7 linked regions of the Homo sapiens genome follow. The protein of the gene in region 6 interacts with the protein of the main gene of each other region in a pairwise test. Each region holds a gene or a part of one and is shown on either strand. Other genes may lie near its edges.

What was found.
Region 1: the proteins of LZTS2 (region 6) and FAM124B interact in binary tests that used the Homo sapiens proteins (3 or more experiments, as listed by UniProt).
Region 2: the proteins of LZTS2 (region 6) and SLU7 interact in binary tests that used the Homo sapiens proteins (3 or more experiments, as listed by UniProt).
Region 3: the proteins of LZTS2 (region 6) and GNL3L interact in binary tests that used the Homo sapiens proteins (3 or more experiments, as listed by UniProt).
Region 4: the proteins of LZTS2 (region 6) and ZMYND19 interact in binary tests that used the Homo sapiens proteins (3 or more experiments, as listed by UniProt).
Region 5: the proteins of LZTS2 (region 6) and GEM interact in binary tests that used the Homo sapiens proteins (3 or more experiments, as listed by UniProt).
Region 7: the proteins of LZTS2 (region 6) and ZNF426 interact in binary tests that used the Homo sapiens proteins (3 or more experiments, as listed by UniProt).

The regions. Positions count from the first base shown.
Region 1 is NC_000002.12:224,381,653-224,385,107, forward strand, and holds part of FAM124B (protein FAM124B), read right to left. Parts: intron 1-3,455.
Region 2 is NC_000005.10:160,409,082-160,412,581, forward strand, and holds part of SLU7 (pre-mRNA-splicing factor SLU7), read right to left. Parts: intron 3,439-3,500; coding exon 3,370-3,438; intron 1-3,369. UniProt on the Homo sapiens protein: Required for pre-mRNA splicing as component of the spliceosome. Participates in the second catalytic step of pre-mRNA splicing, when the free hydroxyl group of exon I attacks the 3'-splice site to generate spliced mRNA and the excised lariat intron.
Region 3 is NC_000023.11:54,547,219-54,550,718, reverse strand, and holds part of GNL3L (guanine nucleotide-binding protein-like 3-like protein), read right to left. Parts: intron 2,491-3,500; coding exon 2,346-2,490; intron 1-2,345.
Region 4 is NC_000009.12:137,581,581-137,584,546, forward strand, and holds the end of ZMYND19 (zinc finger MYND domain-containing protein 19), read right to left. Parts: intron 1,584-2,966; coding exon 1,403-1,583; intron 1,107-1,402; coding exon 963-1,106; 3' UTR 501-962; downstream 1-500. UniProt on the Homo sapiens protein: May be involved as a regulatory molecule in GPR24/MCH-R1 signaling.
Region 5 is NC_000008.11:94,255,820-94,259,319, forward strand, and holds part of GEM (GTP-binding protein GEM), read right to left. Parts: intron 1-3,500. UniProt on the Homo sapiens protein: Could be a regulatory protein, possibly participating in receptor-mediated signal transduction at the plasma membrane. Has guanine nucleotide-binding activity but undetectable intrinsic GTPase activity.
Region 6 is NC_000010.11:101,002,808-101,005,570, reverse strand, and holds part of LZTS2 (leucine zipper putative tumor suppressor 2), read right to left. Parts: coding exon 2,625-2,763; intron 2,065-2,624; coding exon 1,405-2,064; coding exon of another isoform or gene 1,303-1,404; exon of another isoform or gene 1,095-1,302; intron 114-1,094; coding exon 1-113. UniProt on the Homo sapiens protein: Negative regulator of katanin-mediated microtubule severing and release from the centrosome. Required for central spindle formation and the completion of cytokinesis.
Region 7 is NC_000019.10:9,528,646-9,532,145, forward strand, and holds part of ZNF426 (zinc finger protein 426), read right to left. Parts: intron 2,423-3,500; coding exon 2,340-2,422; intron 992-2,339; coding exon 1-991. UniProt on the Homo sapiens protein: May be involved in transcriptional regulation.

The sequences.
Region 1 (3,455 bases), on a different chromosome or scaffold from region 6:
CAAGAATGAACCCTAATGTACCCTATGGGCTTTGGGTGATGGTGATGTGTCGTTGTAGGTTGATCAGTTGTAACACATGTACCACTCTGATAAAGGATGTTGACAGGAAAGGAGGCTCTTTTCGGGGGGAAGGTTGTATATGGGAACTCTCTGTTCTTTCTGCTTAATTCTGCTGTGAACCTACCACTGCTGTAAAAAATAAGGTCTATTTCAAGGGAGAAAAAATAATGATACATATTTATCTTACAAGGCAAGAAGGCAGAAATGAGGACAGTGAGAAAACAGGTCTAGAAATCAGTAAATTCTCTCTCTCATACACACACACACACACTCACACAGAGCATATTTGTTTGTATAGATGACGCAGAGTACATCTCAATTTTCTGATAGAAATGGTGAGGTGCATATTACCAAGCTGCAAAAACAAACACACAAAAAAACAAGGACTTCCACTGATTCTTTTAGAATAGAAGTTGGCAAATATTTTCGGCAAGGAGCCAGACAGTAAATATCTGAGGGTTTGCCGGCCATATGGTCTTTATCCCAACTATCCAACTCTGCTGCAGAGCAGCCATAGACAATATATAAATGAATGGCTGTGTTCAGTAAAACTCTATGTATGAACACTGAAATTTGAATCTCATATTTTTTATGTGTCATGAATTTTTTTCCAACCATATAAAAATAGAAAACTATTTTTAGTTCTCAGGCCACAGTTGACCAAGCCCTATTCTAGATCAATGATTCCCTGTCTTTTTTTTTTTTTTTTTTTTTGAGATGGAGTTTTGCTCTTGTTGCCCAATCTGGAGTGCAATGGCGCAATCTCAGCTCACTGCAACCTCCACCTGCCAGGTTCAAGTGATTCTCCTGCCTCAGCCTCCCTAGTAGCTAGGGTTACAGGCATGCACCACCACGCCCAGCTAATTTTGTATTTTTAGTAGAGATGAGGTTTCTCCATATTGGTCAGGCTGGTCTCAAACTCCCAACCTAAGGTGATCCATCCACCTTGGCCTCCCAAAATGCTGGATGACAGGAGTGAGCCATCTCTCTATCTTAAGAAGTTTTTTTCCAAACAATTTCTTACCTGGAAGCCCAAAATATGAAGCAATCTAATTAGCGCAGCCCTGGTTGACGTACAGAGGGTAGCCTCTGCCTACGGGACCCCCTCTCTAGTTCCCCAGGGCTTCACAGAACCAGCTTGAAAACCACTATTCTAGAATATCTAAATTCTACCCCTGAGCCAAGCCAGTTCATTAGAGCCACACACACCTGAAACCCCTATCGCAGATGTGCTTGCACTGAACCACAGCTGAGTGCAGTGCCCCAGAGTGTGTTGAAGAGAGCTTCCACCAGCATCAGATACTCTCTCTAGGGGCGACACTGTTGAAGGGATGCCCACTGCACCGAAGGACCTGTCCTTATGCAAACCCATAGGAGAAATTTCTGTTCCCAAACTTTGCTGCACAAGGGAACATCCTGGGATCATTAAAAAACAATGATGCCTGCTCCCAGCCCATGACCTCCTGATTTCATCAGGTCAGAGTACACCTGGCTGTCAGAGCTGATAAATCTCCCCCAGTAATTCTAATGTGCAGCGAAGTTTCGGAACTACTGCCATGGACCCAGAAAAGCTAGGCTTCGAGTAGTCAGTTAACTTGCGGTCGTTGTGAGTCTGTTTCTTATCACATACACCCGACCTCCTCCTCCATATTTCTGAAAAATTCTTTGCCTAATTTCATTTTGCTATCTCTCTCTACATTTCCCTTTGCTCTAATTCCACAGCTCCGCCCTCCCTCCCCTCCTTTCTTCCTTCTCTCCTTCCTTCCTCCTGCCCTTCCTTTCCTTTCTTTCCTTTTCATCTGTTTGTTTTTTTAAAAAAGTCTTACTATAAAAGTAGTAATTTATCACCATAAAAATAATTTCATTGTACAAATGTATAAAATAAAAAGTAAAGCCTTCTCCCTATCCCAACCTCAAATCACCCCCAAATTCTCACTTTCCAATGAAGACTATTTGCTTATCCTTTCAAAATCAGGAGGAAAAAATACTATCTCCGAAATGTCAGCTGGGGTTTCCCTTCCCCTGGAGAACAAACTCCCTTAGTCCTTCAAAGGGCCAACTGCCATCATTGCCTCTTGGAGAATCATTTGACACTGTACCCTTGTATCATAATGTACCTTTTTAATTGACCCAATGACATCTTTTTCTTCTAGAAATGGAAACTGGCATGGATATTTCCATACTGAGAAATGGTTCAGGGTTGATATTAGATTATCCAATCTGGAGAAAGAAATCAATAACTTTGACTCTGGGGCTTGTATTTCATTCTCTAGCAACTGTGAACACAGAGAGAAGCCTGAGTAATCGCCCCTTGCCATCTAAATCAATGTCAGATCATAATGAAATTGGTCCTGAAGCCCCAACCAGTGCCGAGACATCTCAGGGCAGCCAGGAAGCGCCCTCCTGGGCCAGCCCAGCTCACCCCTCCACTCCCCTCTGTCACCCAGTCCCACAGCCCCTCCACTGGGCCTTCTCCACCTGCAAATGTCCCATCTTTGAAAGATTCTATTTAAGCCAGGCATTCTGAGGCCATGGGCTCCGGCACTCAATTCCCCATCACATCTGCTCTTCAACATCAACACTCCCAATCCCCAGCTTCTCCCTGTCAGCCCCTCCCATCCACACTGCCTTTCAGAGTCAATTTGAGTCCAAAGACTATCACTTCAACCATTTCTTCACCAATACCTCCAACTCCCCTCACTATTCCCATTCTGTCACAGACTCCCACAAAATCTCCCCACCTTTCATCCATCTACCTGCCCACATTTTCTGAACATGTGTTCAGGATGCCACAGAAACACATCGGTCTGTGAAATGGGTGCCCCATGATGGCGTGGTTTCCGGCCTCTCCCAGGCTACCCGCCAGTCTGCCTGCTTCCTTAGTCACCTCTCTCCATTCACCCAGCAGCTGTTCAAACCTTCAAAACTGTCCTGAAATCTTCAGCAGCACCATCGCCCCCACTCTCTCTCATCAGGTGGTCTCACCATCCAGATTATCAAGGAAGCAGATGCTGTCACCAGTTAGCAACACTCTCACTGCTACCGCGAAACTTACCTGCAGCTTCACCATTCTCTCTAGGTGAAAGTGACCGGTCCCTGGGCCAAGACTCCCATCACCTCCCGCCTTCTTGGTGACCCTGACCTATCAATTATTCATTTTTCCCACTTTCTTATCTTGGATGTTTAATCTCTCTCCCTCTCCTTCTCTTTCTCTCTCTCTGCCTATTCCTTTCCAACAGCAATTAAACTTGTTCAAGTCTCGTGTCTTGAAAAACACATTCTTTCCACCCTCTCTTTCCCTCCAGGTTTCTCTGTCCTCCCCTTCACTGTCAAACCTGTATATAAAATTTGTGTAGTTATGTTTTTCTACAAACCTCCCCTTATTTTCTCTACCC
Region 2 (3,500 bases), on a different chromosome or scaffold from region 6:
AGATGTCCAAAGTACCCAATAAATATTAATTTCTAAATGTGTTAGTCTTCAGACATACTGTATTCATTAAACGTTACTAGTTTCCTAGTAAGTCCAAAAAGAAAATATTACTGGGTTCATGTCTTCACAGCCAAAGTGAAGTTTGGGCAATGAAAAAAATCTACAAGTGACACAGTATTGTAATTTAAGGAGAGGCCAAACTCCTTGTCACAAGGATACACTTTTCTTCGCTAGCAATTGGTCAGAATACTTTCTAACTCCACAGAATGCCTACACTAACGTGGTATTTCATCATGTCCCTTCATAAAGGCTTCAAAGATTAAAAATACTTAAAAAAAAAGAGAATACATTATAGCATTAGTGAGGAGATGCAGAAACACGTGTATGTATATATACTATATAGATGGAAGCATAAATCTGCATGGCTTTTCTGAATGATGGCTAAGTGATATGTCATAAAAATTTTAGAAATACAAACTCACTGAAATACACTTCTAGAAGGTTATCCTAGTATCATGTCAATTATATAAAGATGTATAAGAATGTGATGTGCAGTGTTGTATATGTGCAATGTTTTTTCAAAACACTGGGAAAAAATCAAATTAATAGATCACTGGTTATATAATGTATTGCACTCCATGGAACACTGAACGGCCATTAAAAGTGATTCTATCCAAGGGGCAGAAAAGTATGTATCGTTTCCTAACTTTTTTGATTAAAAAAAGGGGAGGGGAGAGACAGATAGGATAAGGGTATATATTTGTATTTGTATTTATTCAAGACAGTCTGAAAGGAGCCACACACATACACAAAAGAGTTGGGGCGAGGGGAAGTTTAGTGTTAGGGTGGATAGAAACAGGGGTGGAGAGACTTCGCTGTGCATCTTCTTAAATTGTTTTAATTTTTGAGCCATGTGAATTCATACAAAAATAAATGATGCTATAGGTCTATAAATATAGACAGAAAACACGTTCCCACTGTACTCTATGTTGTTAAATTAAAAAAGAAGGTAATAAATGAATATATAAAGATGGATTCATGTAAGAAACATTTTGTATTCTAGCACACATGAACAGGTATATGTGGACAAGAGAGACCTGGAAAGGCCTACTTCAAAATGTTCACAATTAACACAGGGATATTTTCTTTTTTATATTATGTTCTAATTTTTTTCCACTTAATATGTGTTACTTTCAAAATTAGAAATATAAATATTTTGTAAAAAATAATTTTTTTGAGTTCCCACTATTTGCTAGTTCACCAAAGACATTTACATACATTTCTATAGTGACAGCTAAGTCTCTAAATCTACTGTATGTGGTTCATCTTAATATCCAAGCATCCTGGGAGCGGGGAGAGATAGCATTAGGAGATATACCTAATGCTAAATGACGAGTTCATGGGTGCAGCACACCAACATGGCACATGTATACATACGTAACAAACCTGCACGTTGTGCACATGTACCCTAAAACTTAAAGTATATAAAAAAAAAATAATCCAAGCATCCAAGTGGGCAAAAATCATTAGCCCCTTACATACATTAAGTATCCTTACTGGGGAAATAAATTACATTACGTTTACAACAAACAACAGAGAATACATTAGAACAAAAGAAACAGGCCCTTTTTCTTTTCCCAAAGTTAGTAATAAATAAAAATAATCACAACAATAATAGCTACTAATTACCCAGTGTTTACTATGTGATATGTATATAAGCTTCCTGGGGGTAGGTGTTATCATTTCTATTTCAGACATACTAAACTGCAGCTCAGAGAGGCAAATTCACTTTTTTTTTTTTTTGAGACGGAGTCTCACTCTGTCGCCCAGGCTGGAGTGCAGCGGCATGATCTTGGCTCACTGCAAGCTCTGCCTCCTGGGTTCACCCATTCTCCTGCCTCAGCCTCCCGAGTAGCTGGGACTACAGGCGCCCGCCACCGCGACTGGCTAATTTTTTGTATTTTTTAGTAGAGACGGGGTTTCACCGTGTTAGCCAGGATGGTCTCGATCTCCTGACCTTGGGATCCACCCGCCTTGGCCTCCCAAAGTGCTCGGATTATAGGCGTCAGCCACCGCGCCCGGCCGGCAAATTCACTTTTCTAAGAGCATGTATGTCTCATGGAGCAGAGATGGATTTTGTTATTGATTGACTGATTGACTGATTGATTGAGATAGAGTCTCGCTCTGTCATCCAAGCTAGAGCACAGTGACGTGATCTCGGCTCACTGCAACCTCTGCCTCCTGGGTTCAAGCGATTCTCCCGAGTAGCTGGGACTACAGGTGCTCGCCACCACACCCAGCTAATTTTTGTATTTTTAGTAAAGATGAGGTTTCACCATGTTAGCCAGGCTAGTCTCGAACTCCTGACCTCAGATGATCCACCTGCCTCGGCCTCCCAAAGTGCTGGGATTACAGGTGTGAGCCATTGTGCTCGGCCAGAGATGGATTTTAAACACCTATCTGGTAACTTACAATGTTAACTTGCCTGGTAGGTTACCTTAGTAACTCGGTAACTGCTTACTTGGTAATTATTTCAAGTTCTGTTTGCTTTGTTACTTATACATGGTTTAGAGTCCCTTTTAGAAATTTAAACTAAAAAACTATAAATGTTTACTATTTATTTGTGCCTAGATTTGTTAAAAAGAAACTTGACAACTCTAATATGCATAATATATTTACTCTATTGACAAGGATTTTTAAAAAAGAAAAAAAAACTGGCTGCAATAGACCTTTCATTCATATAAAAAATGTTTTGCCCAGTTATATAACTAATACATATTCATTGTGGGAAATGCAGAAAATACTAAAGAAATAGAAAGAAAAATTCATAAATTCTACATTAAATAAAAACTAGTGTTCTGGTCTTTTTTTCTGTGTGATAATATTATACTATCTTTTCATGTATTATTCAAATACAAGTGTTAACCAGTGTTGTTAATGAAGTCTTGAGAAATGCCATTTTAAGAACTACACAGCATTACACCATGCAGATGCACTTAACCAATTCCCTGTTCCTGGACATTTAAGCTATTCCAATTTCTTTACTATTGTGAAAAATGCTGTACTATCTTTATGCATCATGATTTTTCTAAACTCTAGAAAATTCTTTAGGATGGATAGCTTTAATAATTTAACTTGAAAAAGTAAATGTTTGTGTGTGTCTAAATATAAATAGTGGCAATATTGTTCCCAAACTGACTGCATCAATTTATATTACTATGAACTGTATACAAAGTATCAGTTTTATTTTTCCCCCAATAGCATTTCTCTCTTCCTAACTGAAGAGCTATAAAATGAATTCTTGTTTCAATTTTCATTTCTTTGTTTAAAAGAAATAAAACCTTTTTATTGATCATTTTCATTACTTACAGCCTGTTCCACTAATTTTCCTGAGGCTAATTCCTCTTGGAGTTTCTGGGCTTTCAATGTTCGTTTTGCCTTTAAAAAAAAAAAAAAGAAAGAAAGAAAGAAAAAGTAAACATTTAAATTTTACTTACAAC
Region 3 (3,500 bases), on a different chromosome or scaffold from region 6:
CCCACTCACAATCAGCCAGGCAGAGGTCCTCAATGCAAGGCCTCAGTGGCACAATCCAACAGAAGGTGGACATCGAGAAATGTCTAAGAAACAGAGAACAACCTGTCTGGGTGTATCATTCCATGGATGGGGATGGAGGTCATCTCCAGATGCCAGTCTCTCTGTGCAGCTGTCTACCTGAGGTGTGTATTTTGCTGTTTGTGCATCTGTCAGCCATTCTCAGCCTGTGGATGTCTTTGTGTTTCCCCTCACTGGGCCTCATTCTCACCGTTCTCTTTCTGTATGTGCTCAATTTACATGTGTGTACTATTGTCTCAAGCATATGCTTGTTTCAACCCGAGAAAGCTGATTGCCTAAAGAAAAAAAAGGTATATGTCTAAGTATACCTCTCGTGCATGAAGCCTCTGCACACCTCTCTCCCCCCTCCCTCTCTCTAGGTCATTCTCATTCTAAATTATCACCATGCATGGAAGTCTCTACACATCTCTCTCTCTCTCTCTCTCTCTCTCTCTCGGTCATTCCCATTCTCAGTATCACCACTTTTTCCTTTTCTTGTATCTCTCCCACTCAGTCTCTTTCTCTATCTTATCTTTGTTTCTCTCTGTGTCTCTGTATCTAAGCACCTCTTTCTCTGCCAATTTGTCTGTCTCTCATTCTGGCCATTGTTCTTTTCTCTCTGATTCTCTCCACCCCACCAATCCTGCCTCTATTTGTAATTCCCTCCATGCCAACTCCTGTCAGCCTCTGTCCATGCTCCTCATCTCTGTGGGCTGGTCACTTCATGGATGCCTCTCTGTATGTGTCTCACGGTGTCTCTTCTACTCTCTCCCTGTCTGCGCCTCCTTAACCTCCTCTCTGTATGTCTCTATTTCTCTCTGTACAGGTACACATACCTGCCTCATAGTGACATGTCTGGTATTTGTGTCCCTCTGTAACTCTAGGTATGTGATTATGTTCGAGGGTCAAAGTGTATGTGGGCACATGCGTGTCTTCTTTTTTTTGAGACGGAGTCTCGCTCTGTTGCCCAGGCTGGATCTCAACAGTGGCACGATCTCAACTCACTGTAACCTCAACTCACTGTAACCTCCACCTCCCAGATTTAAGCGATTCTCCTGCCTCGGCCTCCCGAGTACCTGGGATTACAAATGCCCGCCACCACACACATCTAATTTTTGTATTTTTAGTAGACATGGGGTTTCGCCATGTTGGCCATGCTGGTCTCAAACTCCTGACCTCAAGTGATCTGTGCGCCTCAGCCTCCCAAAGTGCTGGGGCTACAGGCATGAATGAGCTGCTACATCCAGCCCTCCTTGTGGTTCTATGCGCGTTGGGGGAGCAGCGTTGGGGTGGGTGTGTGTGGGAAGGGCTTGGTCTACATGCATTTTGACTGTGGTTCTGTCTCGCTAGATGTGCCTCCTCTGGATCTCTGGGTCTGTAGCGTGGGTCTGTGTATGTGTTTGTGGATCTGTATGTGTACTTAAGAGCTATGTGTATGTGTTCCTCTGTATCTACAGCCTTGTCCAGTCTGCTTCCATGTATGTCTCTCTCTGAATCTGTCTCTATCCCTGTAGTATGTTTTTCTCTCTCATTCTTTGAGAAAACATGTCTGCCTCTCTACATACATGGGTTATCTCTACCCTTCCTATGTCTCCCTCGGCAGATCTCTGTATGCATGTCTGTTTCTATGTCCCTTTTGGTGTTTCTGATTGTATCTCCCTCTTTACATGCCTCCATCATGTAAATCTGTCTCCTCTTTCCATTCCCCACCAATCCTGCCATCTGGCTTCCCAGTGCGTTCTCTGTGTCTTCTTCTGTATCTATCCTGGTATGCATACCTATACCTTCTCAGTGTCTAGCTCTCTCTCCAATGTCTTTCTCACGTGGCTTCACATTCTTTCTCTGGTGATCTATCTCTGCCTCTCTCAATTTCCCTACTCCATTCCCATCATCCCTCCCTCAGAAACTTGTGCTCCAGAAAGGCCCAGGTTTTGATCCTCAGCTCTGCCTTGTCTTGCACAGGGCTGGGCTCCAAAAGTCCCTTTGCCCTTCTCTGAGCCTCACTCAGAATTCTCATCCGTAAAAGGTAGACGGTCACCCCATCCTCCCATAGCTCTGATAGGATGAGATGGTACCAAGTCCAAGCCTGGCACCCTGTATTTGCTCCATGAATCTAATACTCAATACGCAGTGATGCCCACCCATCCAAGTTACAAATCACGAAACCCTTCTCCTGAACCACTCCTCTCTCCCCGCAAAAGACAATGAAGCTCCCAGGATCCTTTCCCCCAGCGAAGTGTCCGCTCAAGAAAGAAGCCTGAGCCCCATGACCACACAGCAGGTCTTACCCACAACACCCACACGAATGTGGGTGCGCACTTCACCAAGGCGGCAATAGTTCCCCAGAACCCTCATGAGGTTTTCAGCTCCAAAGCAGGCTTTGCTTTTCAGCAGTGACTCAGAGGCCTGATCTACTGGCACACTGCAACGATTCTGGAAAAAAAAATTGAATATCACAGAAGAGACATCAGGTGGCAGATGAGGTCTGAGCCCAGATTTCCAACTTTCAGGGCCTCCCTATGATCACTGAGCTCCTCAGCCTGAAACGGAAGGCTTCTCACACAGATCTTGAACACGTGTCATTTCCCCATTCCCCTCCACTGTCTTTGTGTCTCCAGTCTCCTCTGCCCCTGCGTCTGCTTCGACACATGTCACTTGCCTCCCTCGGCAGTGGCAGGATGGCATCCTGGCTCTAAATAGGCCAGGTTTGAGCTCCAGGTCTACTTCTCACAGGCCTATGTCCAGCAAAGCCTGCTTCCCTTCTCCAGGCCTCAGTGCCCTGTGTGCACAACAGGGATGCCCACCCTCCCTGCCTGCGCAGGGATGAGAGGGAGCCTGGCCCACAGCCTACCCTCCCTCAATTCCTCACACAGGACAAAGCCATCCCAACCTTTACTCCTGATGCCACTTCCTCTGCCCAGAATTCCCTCCCTCCTCTTCCCTTACTTTTTTTCTTTGAGACAGAGTCTTACTCTGTCACCCAGGCAGGAGTGTGGTGGCACAACCTTGGCTCACTGCAACTTCCACCTCCTGGGTTCAAACGATTCTCATGCCTCAACATCCCAAGTAGCTGGGACTACAGGCATGCACCACCACACCCGGCTAACTTTTGTATTTTTAGTAAAGACAGAGTTTCGCCATGTTGGTCAGGCTGGTCTCAAACTCCTGGCATCAAGCAATCTGCCCACCTTGGCCTCCCAAAGTGCTGGGATTACGGGCATGAGCCACCACGCCCAGCCACAGCATTGTTTCCAATATCACAAAATTGGAATTAGCCTATATATCCATCAATAAGAAACAGGTTAAAAAGCTGTAGCCTTAAAGTGGAATACAAATGAAATACAGCTGTTAGAAAAGGTGGCTTCTGGCCGGGTGCTGTGGCTCATTCCTGTAATCCAGCACTTTGGGAGGCCAAGGCAGGCGGATCACTTGAGGTCACGAGT
Region 4 (2,966 bases), on a different chromosome or scaffold from region 6:
CAAGATGCTGACCAGCCCCAGACACCTGGGGCTCCCCAAGGAGAGGGAGGGCTATCCTGGAAACCACAGCCCTGCAGACGGACGGAGAAGTGAGACCCTCACCTCACCCTGGCTGGCCAGCCCCCTCCACCATCTGCAGCAGGCCTGCTGAACATGCCCTGTGGATTCTTCTGGGCAGAAGCTCACTGCTGAGCTCCCAGCCACTTCATGCATAAATCAGGCAAGAACTAACCAATGTCAGGGGCGAGAGCATCCTACTCCCCATAAAACAGCGGGCAGCTGACTTAGCAACCCCACCACTCCTGCCGCAAGACAAGGACAGAGTCTCACTCATACTCCCTGCTGGACTCAGGAAGGTCTGAGCTCACCCGCTCCTCAGAAGGGCCCACCAGGAACAAGGGTCCTCCTGCCTCACCCACAAGGACTCGGCTCCACTCAAAATGACCTCACCCTAAGCAGCACAAGAGGGAGGCGGAGCAGAGAATGTCCGAGAGGCCAGATGATTCCACCCCTTTACTTTGCCTTTGTGGACACAACTCCCGTGCAGGCCGCGCTCCACGGGGCTCCCGGCGGCCCAGGGGAGAAGCTTCGACAACAGGACAGTTTTTAGTCACGTGGCCTGACCGTTTGCCATTTAAGGATTACAGCAAATGATTCTATTTGTAATTTCTACCCTTCCCATTGCCTCCCCCCCAAAAAAAACTGTACATGAGTTTACAAACATATTAACATATAAATAATGAGAACCGTCCTGGTGGGAGCCTCCTCCGTTGTCTCTGCTGGAGATGAACACTGAGGGGCGCTGTAACCACACAGACTGCCTGTGACATCGGGAGTCTCACGGCAGCTGTCCTGGGCCCGCAGCTGGCTTTTTTGGCACCTCCAGGTTCAACCACCAGTCTGTCTCTGCTGTGCCCAGGGTAGAGCCCGGGGGCTGTGAGTATGTGTGGCTCCCCTGCCCGTCATCGCTCTGGCTCAAGCTCATGCTGGAAGGGACGCTTCCTCTCCCGACAGTGCTTCTTGTGGGCAGGCCAGTCCTTCTGCTGGCACTGGGAGCCGCAGTACCGGGCCACCTGGCAGCGCCCACAGATGTTGAACTCCCGGAGCTGAAATACAGAACACCTGTGGCTTCACCATCATGCCTGGGACGCAGTGTGGGGCAAAGGCTGCGTCTTACGGACAATCTGACGGACCCAGCAAAACACCACGTACCAAGGCTGGAGGGCCTGGGCCCTGGTCAGGCCAGCACAAGGGCAAAGGGAGACCACTCTGGTGGAAAAGCCCAAGAGGTGCTAAGCGGTCTCTGGGGAATGGGACCCCGCGGTGGAGGGCAAGATCCCAAACCAAGGCTGGGCTACAGGGTAGAGGTGCCAGGGACGCGACCGCACTGCAGCACACCCACCTGCTTCTCAATCACTGTGCAGGGAGGGTAGTGGCACTCATAGTAGGTGCAAGAGTTCTCCTCCTCTTCCACTACATCCCCGTTGGCATTATAATACCGGGTCACATTTAGGACAGGAAACTGTTCTTCTATAGGGTCTGTAGGCAGCTGCTGAATTGCAAGCCAATACAAGCTTTGCTCCCTTAAAGAAAGAAGCAGACACTTGAGTGCACTCTGGCCAAACGGGGCCAGCACACAGCAGACGATGCAATGACTCCATAGAGTGCCATCCTGCCCAGGACACCCAGCCCGAGTTTGAGTCTCCTTTGGCCCATCCCTGCTGCATGTGCTTTTCACCACCTGACAGTAAATATTGTGTCTCATCTTCCCACTAACCCGTAAGCATGGCCTCATCTATCACCCTCTCCCCAGCACCTGGGACTGACAGGCACACAGTAGGCAGGAGACAGGGCCCAGGTCAGGCCCCTGTGCAAAGCGAGGCGGCCCCTCTCCTTGCCCTTGACCTGCAGAGGTGCCCATTACTGCCCCGTCGGTCCACTTCCCCTTCCATACCGGGAGCTGCCCTACGTCCGTCTAAAAACTCCTCCTGCTTGAGTAGGCCAGATGCCTACAACGGGAGAGTTCTACCAAGAACGGAGCCTCAAAGGCATGTGCACTGGCTGCTCAGAGGCAAGCGTGGGCAGCCCCAGCCCTGCTGCATCACGGAGTAAAGAAGCTGCATAAACCACCCCACCAACCCCGTTCTCCGAAGCCAGACCCTGAGGAGACTTGGTTAAAACGGGGAAGGATCAGGACATGGGAAGATGTTGGTGAGGTCCCACCAGACAGAGGCAAGTTTCAGACACTGCTGGCTTCTGAAGACAGAACAGGAAAACACCCCTTTGCCAAGAGGCCCCTTTTGTGGGGGCTGAGCTGACACAGTGCCAGGAAAGCAAAGCAATAGCCCAGGCCTGACAAAGACAGGGTGACCCCACCACAAAGAGCCGGACCACAGGGAGGCCACAGACTGGGATCCAGACGGACGCACAGCACCCAGCCAGTCAACAAAGACAGGGTGACCCCACCACAAAGAGCTGGATCACAGGAGGCCACAGACCAGGATCCAGACGGACACACAGCACCCAGCCAGACAGGATGTCAGGCCCACACTGGCCAGCTCTGACTTCTGCTCGGGGCCTGGGGTGCTGACCCAGCACAAGAGGCCCAACACCTGCTGGGTTCTAAAACCCCATGTTGGCAAACCAAAGATGGCTGAGCCTGATCAGTCCTGAGCCACCCCAGGCCCACCTCCTGTAGCAGGGGGTTGTGTAAGGCAGCAGCCCCAGCGCAACTCGTCCTGCTGTGCCCTCAGAGAATGGGCATCCTGCCGTGCCCACAGAGAATGGGCTGACCAGGAGCATCAGCCCAACACCCCCTTTCCAAACGGCTGTTCTTAACGGCAGTTATCTCCTCTCCTGATTATAAAGGGTGCTGAGAGGATTCAAGGTAACATTCAGTCACAGGCTGGCCGGACCCTGAGTCTTGTTGAGAACCGGCTGAAATGACCCGCACCATGGCAGGGACA
Region 5 (3,500 bases), on a different chromosome or scaffold from region 6:
ACACTCTATGTAGCAAAAGAACTCATGCTGATGGGGACAGACAGACGTTCTATAAGGGGTGATGGTGGTCAGTAGCCACTTTCTCTAGACCAGTTTGTCTTTCCTCATTTGATCCCCCTGACAGACTCTCTCCCTGACCAAACTTTAGTCAGGCTCCTCTGAATCCTCTTCTCTACCCGGCCTCTCCCTGGGCTTCCGTTTCCATCCTGGCAGAATTCAGCTTTAGCAAGAATCCTGCTAAGTCAGTTTAGTGAGAATCCCCCACCTTCAATATCTGATCAAATTCCTCACCCACCACCTCTGATAGTCTAAGTCCTTGGCCTGACTTCAGCAAGAATCCCCCTAACCTTGACGTCTCCTCTTAGTAATTTTCCATCCTCTGACCCCCTCCCACCTGCTCCTTGGCCTGACTTCAGCAAGAATCCCCCTAACCTTGACGTCTCCTCTTAGTAATTTTCTATCCTCTGACCCCCTCCCACCTGCTCCTTGGCTAAGTGCCCACTTGTTCTTCTTGTACTTGGAATTGAGCCCCATCTCTCCCCACTATTGGGATGCCTACTGCAATGGCCCTGAATAAAGTCTTCCTTACCATGTTAATAATTTTTTCGTTAACACTCCTTGTGCTTGGAAGTGAGGCCCCTTCTGCCCAAGACTGGCTCAAGTGCTGTGTGTGTGTGAAACCCGCCCAAGTGTTCTCTCACTGCCAGAACTGACTCCTGCAGCACCTCTAAAGTTCTGAGACTCCAGCATCCCTCTCCCTGAAAACTTTCAACTGCTTCCAGCTTTCATAGCTCAGGGGATCCCAAGGAACCTCAGAAGAAATGCCTGCTCTACAAATACTGTCCTCTACTCTACTGGCCCCGGTCCCCTCTGGACAGCTCCACGGGCCCCAGCCAACAGTGACCAAAGTGGACAGGGGCCACAAGCAAGGAAACCACCACTTTTGAAAGATAAGCACATCAAAAGGAAATGGTAGATTCAGAATCAGCTCTAACTAATGCTCATTTCGTACTTACTATGTGCCAGGCACCATGCTCCATGCTCAACATGTTATATCCTTTAATCCTCGTAACACCCTATGAAGGAGGTATTACCCCAATTACACTAATGAGGCAGCTTGAGGAGGCTAAGTGGCTTGTCCAAGAGCACCCAGCCAAGTCAGTGTCAGAGCTGCGTCTAAACCCATCATCAAACCCCAAGCCCAATGAGACTTCCGTACTTTGCTATATATGTGTGGTGTGCCTTCCCACCTAGCTCAGGGCTTCCAAATCCTAGTTGTCCCTAGGGTCCAGTTCAGAGACCATCTCTTCCATGAAGCTTTTATTTATTTTATTTATTTTATTTTATTTTTATTTTTATTTTATTTTATTTCATTTTTGAGATGGAGTTTCACTTTTGTTGCCCAGGCTGGAGTGCAATGGTGAGATCTCGACTCACTGCAATCTCCACCTCCCAGATTCAAATGACTCGCCTGCCTCAGCCTCCTCAGTAGCTGGGATTACAGGCACATGCCACCACGCCCGGCTAATTTTTTGTATTTTTAGTAGAGATGGGGTTTTACCATGTTGGCCAGGCTGGTCTTGGACTCCTGACCTCAGGTGATCCACCTGCCTCGGCCTCCCAAAGTGTTGGGATTACAGGCATGAGCCACCATGCCGGGCCAACCATGAAGCTCTTAAATCCACAGTCAGAGGTAATCTTTTCGCCTCGGAATTCCCACAGCACTCTCCTTACACCACTTTCAAGACATTTACCACATCCTATCTCAATTTCTACTTGGTGTATACATTATGCTCCATTGCATACTGTGAGCATCTCCGCAGAAGAAGCCCCATGACTCTTTGCATGTCCCCAGAGTGCCTCACCAAGCTCTGTGCTATACATTCAGTAACTTCTTAGGAATGAATGAATGAATGAATGGCATTCAGTGTATACAGAGAGTCATAAGATTACTGTAGTGTAACTGTAACAATATCCATCTTTATTAGGAGAAATCATTATGAGAATATTATGTCGATTTTTTTTCTTACAGTGAATGCTGATTTAAAAAAAAAAAAATGTAGGGGTGTGCCTTAGAAAACCTTCCTCTTGGGAAACAAAACCAACTAGTGATTCCAGCAGGTCCTACAGATTCTCTGTGTAAGAAGCTAGGGAAAGGATTCCCTTTCTCTCATGATTGAACCCAAATCCTGTGTCTTTTCATGGTCCCCTGCGGCCCCAGGATCAGCCATATGCCTGATGCCCAATGTGCTGTCATATTGGGCATCTCTCTCTCTCTCTCTCAACAAAGAAGTTCCCAAAATATCTGGGAAGGCTACCTTTCCAAATTCCAGGTATGAGTCAGTCTTCTTAACATTTTATGCCTATGGGAATATTACCCTCTGGATACATACAACTCCATTCTAATGGACAAACATTTTTGAAAGTCTACTATCCACTAACTTTTTTCAATTCTTCCCTCTTAAAAACAAAAAACAACTCCCAGTCCATCTCTTCCTTATGTCAACGCCCAAAGCACTGTATCGTTACTGCTTAAAATATTAGTTAATGTGACCCTGCTCTGCAACATAGCAACTAACACTTAGCTCATTACTAGGGGGCATGGTATACCTCATCCATCGCCTTGTATCCCAGAGCTTAGGCCAGAGCCAGGTGTGTGGCTGATGCCCAATGTGCTGTCATACTTAGTATTTGGAAGCTAAATCCTGGGGCTGCAGGGGGCTATGAAAAGACACAGGATTTGGGTTCAATCACAACTAGATTTGAATCCTGGTCATACCATGTACTAGTTTTTTCACCCTGGGAAAGTCACTTGACTTTGTAAGCCTCCATTTCTTCACCTGTCAAATAGGTATATTAATGCCAGATTGATTCAAGTATTATCAAAAATATGTGTGGGAAGTATTTAACACAGTGCCTGGCACATAGCAAGTTCCCCAGAAATGGTAAAATGAACTGAACTAAGATGATAAAATCCCAAATTCTAAATCCACCTTCCTTATTGGGTGATTCTGGATAAGGCTTTTGATCTCCCTGAGACTTAGTTTACTCATGAGTACAAGAACTTTGTGAAGACCAAAATAAACAGCAGCAAATATAAGGCACCTAACAAAGTGCCTCTCCCGTTGCAAACATTCACTCTAAATGCTAGCCCCTTCCTCCCGTTTCTCTTTCCTAGCAAGTCACCTGGCAGCCTTTACAAAGAAAGAGGGAATCAATTGTACAACACTGGCCCTATTTCTCCCTTTACTCTTCTGAGATTCCAGGAGTGAGGAGAGAAATCAATGTTACAACAATGAGTCATTATTTATAGCCCAGTTCCTGAGCTGCCTCATGAGGCAGTGAACTCCTTGACACTGAGACAATCAAGAAGAATAAAACCTCCAGATGAGATGGGCTGTGGGTAGTGAGGAATAACATTAATATGCATCAATGCAGGGGAGAACTGAGTCATCGCTAAGACACCTCCCTACTCTGTGATTCAGTTGTGAGTCGCGACA
Region 6 (2,763 bases):
ACCTGCAGCTGCAGCAGCTGTTGGGCCCGCTGTGCCCGCTGTGCCTGGGCCGCACAGTCCTCTCGCAGGGCCTCACGCTCTCGCTGCCAGTGCCGCTGCCGCTCCTCGTATGCCTGCAGGCGAGAAGAGAGACCTGGCTCCTGGGCAGTTTTCCCAACTCCCCACTCAGTGTCTGCTCTGGCAGCCCACTTCCGAGGGCTCAGGAAGGGTGGATTCCATTAAACAACAATAGTAATTGCAACAACAATACTAACTGCTTTTATGATGATCATAGAAACAAACACAAGAGCAAGCAGACCGGGCTCGGTGGCTCACGCGAGGTGGGTGGATCACTTAAGCTCCGGAGTTCGAGACCAGCCTAGGCAACACAGCAAAACCCTGCCTCTCCAAAGACCAAAAATTAGCTTGGTGTGGTGGCATGCGCCTGTAGTCTCAGCTACTTGGGAGGCTGGGGTGAGAGGACTGCTTGAGCCCAGGGGGTTGAGGCTACAGGGAGCTGAAATCACGCCACTGCTCTCTAGCCTGGGTGACAGAATGAGACCTTGTCTCAAAAAATAAAAAAAGCAAGCACTTGGCCGGGTGCAGTGGCTCACGCCTGTAATCCCAGCACTTTGGGAGGCCGAGGCAGGTGAATCACTTGAGGCCAGGGGTTCGCGACCAGCTTGGCCAACATGGTGGAAACCCTGTCTCTACTAAAAATAAAAAATAATAAAAAATTTTAAAAAAGGCAAGCATTTATATAGCACTTCCTAGGTACCAGGCATTAGTCTAATCACTTTACACCTTTTGCCTTATTTAATCCTCATAATAATCCTACGAAGCTAGAAATATCCCTATATAGATGAAGAAATAAAGGCTGAGTAAAGTTAAGCAACTTGCTCAAGCCCAAAAACTAGTATTTGGCAGTGGGAGGTTTGAATCCATGCACTCTGACTCCTTTCCACCCCACAAGTTTTGTTTTTTGTTTTGAGATAGAGTCTTGCTCTGTCGCCCAGGCTGGAGTGCAATGGTGGAATGTCAGTCCATTGTAACCTCCTCCTCCTGGGCTCCAGTGATCCGCCCACCTCAGCCTCCCAAGTAGCTGGGACTACAGGTACATGCCACCACACTTAGCTAATTTATTTTTAGTAGAAATGGGGTTTCCCCATGTTACCCAGGTTGGTCTCAAACTCCCGAGCTCAAGCAATCCGCCCACCTCGGCCTCCCAAAGTGCTGGGATTACAGATGTGAGCCACCACACCTGGCTACTCCACACATTAAACCAGACAACTGGTGGGGAGGGCAGGGGGGTCACAACTACAACTACCCAACCCCCGTTCCCTGCCAAAATGGAAATGCCGCTTGCATCCCAGGGCCTTGGGATGTCCTGCCATGCCCCTTCCCCATCATTGCCTCTGACCACACCTGGCACATGGTAGCCTCATTCTCGTCCAGACTGTCCCGCAGCTGCTGAAGCTCTGCCTCCCGGTCTCGGAGCTTTCCTTCCAGGACACAGTGCAGCAGGGCCTCATCCGAAGGAGGTGGAGGCGGGGGTGGTGGTGAGCGCTCCCCACAGGAGCTGCTGTCAGGGGAGGCCCGAGTACCACTGCCCAAAAGCCCCCCAGCCACACGGCCCCCTAGGGAGCCTGTGCTCTTGCTGGAGGAGGACCGGCCACTGTCTGAGTGGGAGGGCCCAGTAGGGACCCCTCGGGCTGGCCCAGGCAGTGCCCCTCGCCCAGAGCCATGGGAAGGCAGGTGCCCGCCTGGGGAGCTGGTGGTTGGCTCGGCACCTCCGGTGCTGTAGGTGGGCAGGCTGGACAGTGAGTTTCGGCCAGAGTCGGATAGCGTCCCTGATGGGCAGCCACTGGCCCAGCCACTAAATGCCAGGGGTTTGTCAGCAGCTGAAGAGGAGGAGGAAGAGGAGGAGGAGGAGGCAGGGCCCCCAAACAGCTGCGTCAGGCTGCCCTGGCTCCCAGACAGCCCGGTGGCCCGAGGACCCATGAAGCTAGGCAGGGACGGAGCCCCTCGAGGTTTGGGCAGCACTGGCTTGAAGGCTGTTGGGCGGATCAGGATCTTCTCCATGTTCTGAAATGAGGTGCCATGTGACACTGGAGATGAGCTGCCCAATCTTGCAGAGCCCTTATGACACTCCCTGCCCTCCCGTCTTGGGTCCCCAGTGCCCATATATTCATAACAATTGCGGCCACTGGTGGAGGTGGCCACCAGTGTCAGCTTTGTGTCAAGCAATTTGAAAAGTTTATCTCCATTATCTAAATATGATCACTATCCCCATATTACAGATGAGGAAATGGAGGCTCAGCAAGGTTAAAGGCCTTGCCCAAAGTCAAACGTATAACTGGTGCAGAATAACCAGAACGTAAGCAACTAGCACTTACTGCGTACATGCTACGTGCTAGGCACTATGCTATACATTATTTGACCTTCATGTCAGTTCTAGAAACTGAGGCTCAGGTTAAGTGACTTCCCTGAGGTCACACATCCAGAATGAGAGAGAGCTGGGATTAGGACCCAGGTCTGGTGAATCTGGAGCCCACACTCTTTCCTCTATATAAGCTTCTAAATTCCAGTTTCCCAAGCGAGGACTCCCGTTCTACCCAGGCCCACAAGGAAGAGCCGGTCCTCACCTTCTCCAGCTTTCCAGAGACAGGGATGAGCTTTGGTGGTGGGCCGCGGAGGTGGGCATTGTGTGCCCGCTGCTCTCGGGCATCCTCAACATCACTGCTTGGGCTGGGGGGTGACTCTGTCCGGAAGTCCTCATTGATG
Region 7 (3,500 bases), on a different chromosome or scaffold from region 6:
TGTGAATTTTAAGGTGGGTGGAATAGTTAAAAGCCTTCCCACATTCCTTACAGGTGTATGGTTTCTGGGCACTGTGCGTTCGCATGTGATTATTAAGACATGAGGGATACCCAAATACTTTCCCACATATCTTACACTCACAGGCCTTCTCTTCAGTGTGAGTTCTCAAATGTCCACTAAGATTTGAGGAAACTGCAAAGGCTTTCCCACATTCAACACATACAAAAGGCTTCTCTCCAGTGTGAGTTCTTATATGTTGAATAAGGCGTGAGGATGTAAGGAAGGATTTCCCACATTCCTTACATTCATAGGGCTTGTCTCCACTGTGAGATCGTACATGCATACTAAGGCCCGAGTACTGAGTGAAGGCTTTCCCACATTCCTTACATACATAGGGTTTCTCTCCAGTGTGAGTTCTTCCATGTATCTGAAATGAGTTGGAATAATTGAAGGCTTTCCCACATTCCTTACATTCATATGGTTTCTCCCCAGTGTGGGTTCGCATGTGAATACTGAGGTAGGCTGGGTATCTATAGCCTTTTCCACATTCCTTACATTTGTAGGGCTTTTTTGCATTGAGGGTTTCTATAAGCACAGAAAGGCTTGTAGAGTCAATAAAACCTGGCCCATAATTCCTCCATTCGTAGAGTTTTTCTCCATTGTGAGTTCTCATATGTGCCTGAAGGTATGACTCATTAATGAAGGATTTTCCACAGTGACTACATTCAAATGACTTTTCTTGTGTGCTAGTTCTCTGGTATACAATATTTGGTGTCAGGCTGAAGATTTTTTCACTCTGATTAAACTCAGAAAGTTTCTCACCAGTAGAGGTTTTCTCACACAGGGTAAGGAAATCTTTTCCATACTGATTACAGTCATGAGTGTTCCCTGTACTTTGAGTTCTCACGTGCGTCTTAAGGCATGAGTGTTCACTGAAGACTTCTCCACATTGCTCACAGTCACAGAGTTCCCTTCCATTGTGTTTTCCTTCCTGTTGAAGGGATGATGATGATTTAAGGATTTTTCTCAAACATATTAACAGAACATACCCATCTGAAGCTAGAAACATTATAATGGTGATTATAATTGATGCCATTTTTATTACATGCATTCAGGTCCTTCCCTGTAGATTTATTTTAAGTGGTATGACTTAACTCTTATTCTAGAATGTTGTGCCATCTACTTTAATCTTGGCTAGGCATGGTGTCTCATGCCTGTAATCCCAGCACTTTGGGAGTCCGATGGGGGGCAGATCACCTGAGGTCAGGAGTTCAAGACCAGCATGGCCAACATGGTGAAACCCTGTCTCTACTAAAAATACAAAAATTAGCTGGGCTTGGTGGCACATGCCTGTAATCCCAGCTACTTGGGAGGCTGAGACACAAGAATCGCTTGAACCTGGGAGGCGGAGGTTGCAGTGACCCAAGATCACACCACTGCACTCTAGCCTGGGCAACAAAGCGAGACTCCGTCTCAAAATAATAATAATAATAATAATAACAGATTTCTGTAGAATTCAATGTCTAGATGGGTGCAGTAGCTCACATTTGTAATCCCAGCATTTTGGGAGGCAAAGGTGGGTGGATCATTTGAACCCAGGAATTAGAGACCAGCCTGGGCAACATGGCAAAACTCCATCTCTATAAAAAATATCAAAAAATTAGCTGGGCATGGTGGTGTGTTCCTGTAGTCCCAACCACATAGGAGGCTGAGGTGGGAGGATCACTTGAGCCAAGGGGTCAAGGCTTCAGTGAGCCATGTTTGTGCCACTGCAATCCAGCCTGGGTGACACAGCAAGACCTTGTCTCGACCAAAAAAAAAAAATTCATAGTCTAAGCCAGATGTGGTGGCTCATGCCTGTACTCCCAGCACTTTTGTAAACTGAGGCAGAGGATCACTTGAGCACAGGAGTTTGAGACTAGCCTGGGAAACACAGTAAGACCCTGTCTCCACAAAATTTTGAAGAATTAGCTGGGTGTGGTGGTGCATGCCTGTAGTCCCAGCTACCAAGGGAGGCTGAGGTGGGAGGATCGCCTGAGCCCAGGAGGTCAAGACTATACTGAGCCATGATTGCACCACTGCACTCCAGCCTGGGTGACAGAGCAGTATCTCGTTTCAAAAAAACACCAAAACAAAACTCAACGTCTAGTTACACTTGTGGGAATGTGTGAAAGCTCCAAAGAAACAAGTTTCACAATTGGAGCATCCCTAAATTCTTTGCTCCCTCTCATGTGTATGCAACTTCTCTCAAATATCTCTTATTTTTGCTGACTTCCCATAACAGAATTCCTGATTTTCTCTGAGGGTGGAAAATAAAAAATATCCTATGCAAATCTTACCAATTGTATCCCAATGGATGTCTGACCCCTCAAAAAGTCCTGCTGAAGTATAGACCACTGGGTTTCAAGTCGCATTTCCCATCCTGAAATAAAACAGACAAACAAATAAAAGGACTCAAGCTAGGCACAGTGGCTCATGCCTGTAATCCCAGCACTTTGGGAGGCTAAGGCAGGTGGATCACTTGAGGTCAGGAGTTTGAGACCAGCCTGGCCAACATGGCAAAACCCCACCTCTACTAAAAATTCAAAAGCTAGCTGGGTGTGGTGGTGAGCACCTGCAATCCCAGCTACTCACGGGGCTCAGGCTGGAGAATCTCTTGAATCCAGGAGGCAGAGGTTGTAAGGAGCTCAGATCACACCACTGCACTCCAGCCTTGGCAACAAACAGAGTGAACCACAACAAGAACAAATGAAAGGATTTGGAGAAAGAAATGCAAAGAGTTCAAAACAATATGGCTTATTTCTATTTGTTTCAAATTAAACATGGCAAGAAAAAGCAGAAAGACATTTGGGGATTTGGGCTATATCAAAAATTTGGTTTTGATGTAAATGATCCAAAGGGGGAAAAATTGGCCAAGACAAGGACATGGGGTAAAACTTTTCGATCGTTTATTACAAATTGATGCTATGAAAATTAAAACTGATAGTGAATAGAGAGAATCAGGGAATGAAAGTAGGAAATTTCTGAAAAAAGAGCGTATATCTAAACAATTAACTTGGCCGGGCACGGTGGCTCATGCCTTTAATCCCAGCACTTTGGGAGGCCGAGGCAGGCAGATCACGAGGTCAGGATATTGAGATTATCCTGGCTAACACGGTGAAACCCCGTCTCTACTAAAGATATAAAAAAATTAGCCAGGCATGGTGGCAGGCACCTGTAGTCCCAGCTACTTGGGAGGCTGAGGCAGGAGAACGGCATAAACCCGGGAGGTGGAGCTTGCAGTGAGCTGAGATTGCACCATTGCACTCCAGCCTGGGCGACAGAGCAAGACTCCATCTCAAAAAACAAAACAAACAAACAAAAGCCACAATTAACTTAAAGAAATGTTCTAAGACCCCAGGTGGATGCCTGAATCATGGCTAGTTCTGAACCCTGTACATACTATGATTCTTCGATCTGGTAACTGAGATGACCGCTACGTGACTCACAGGTGGTGTACA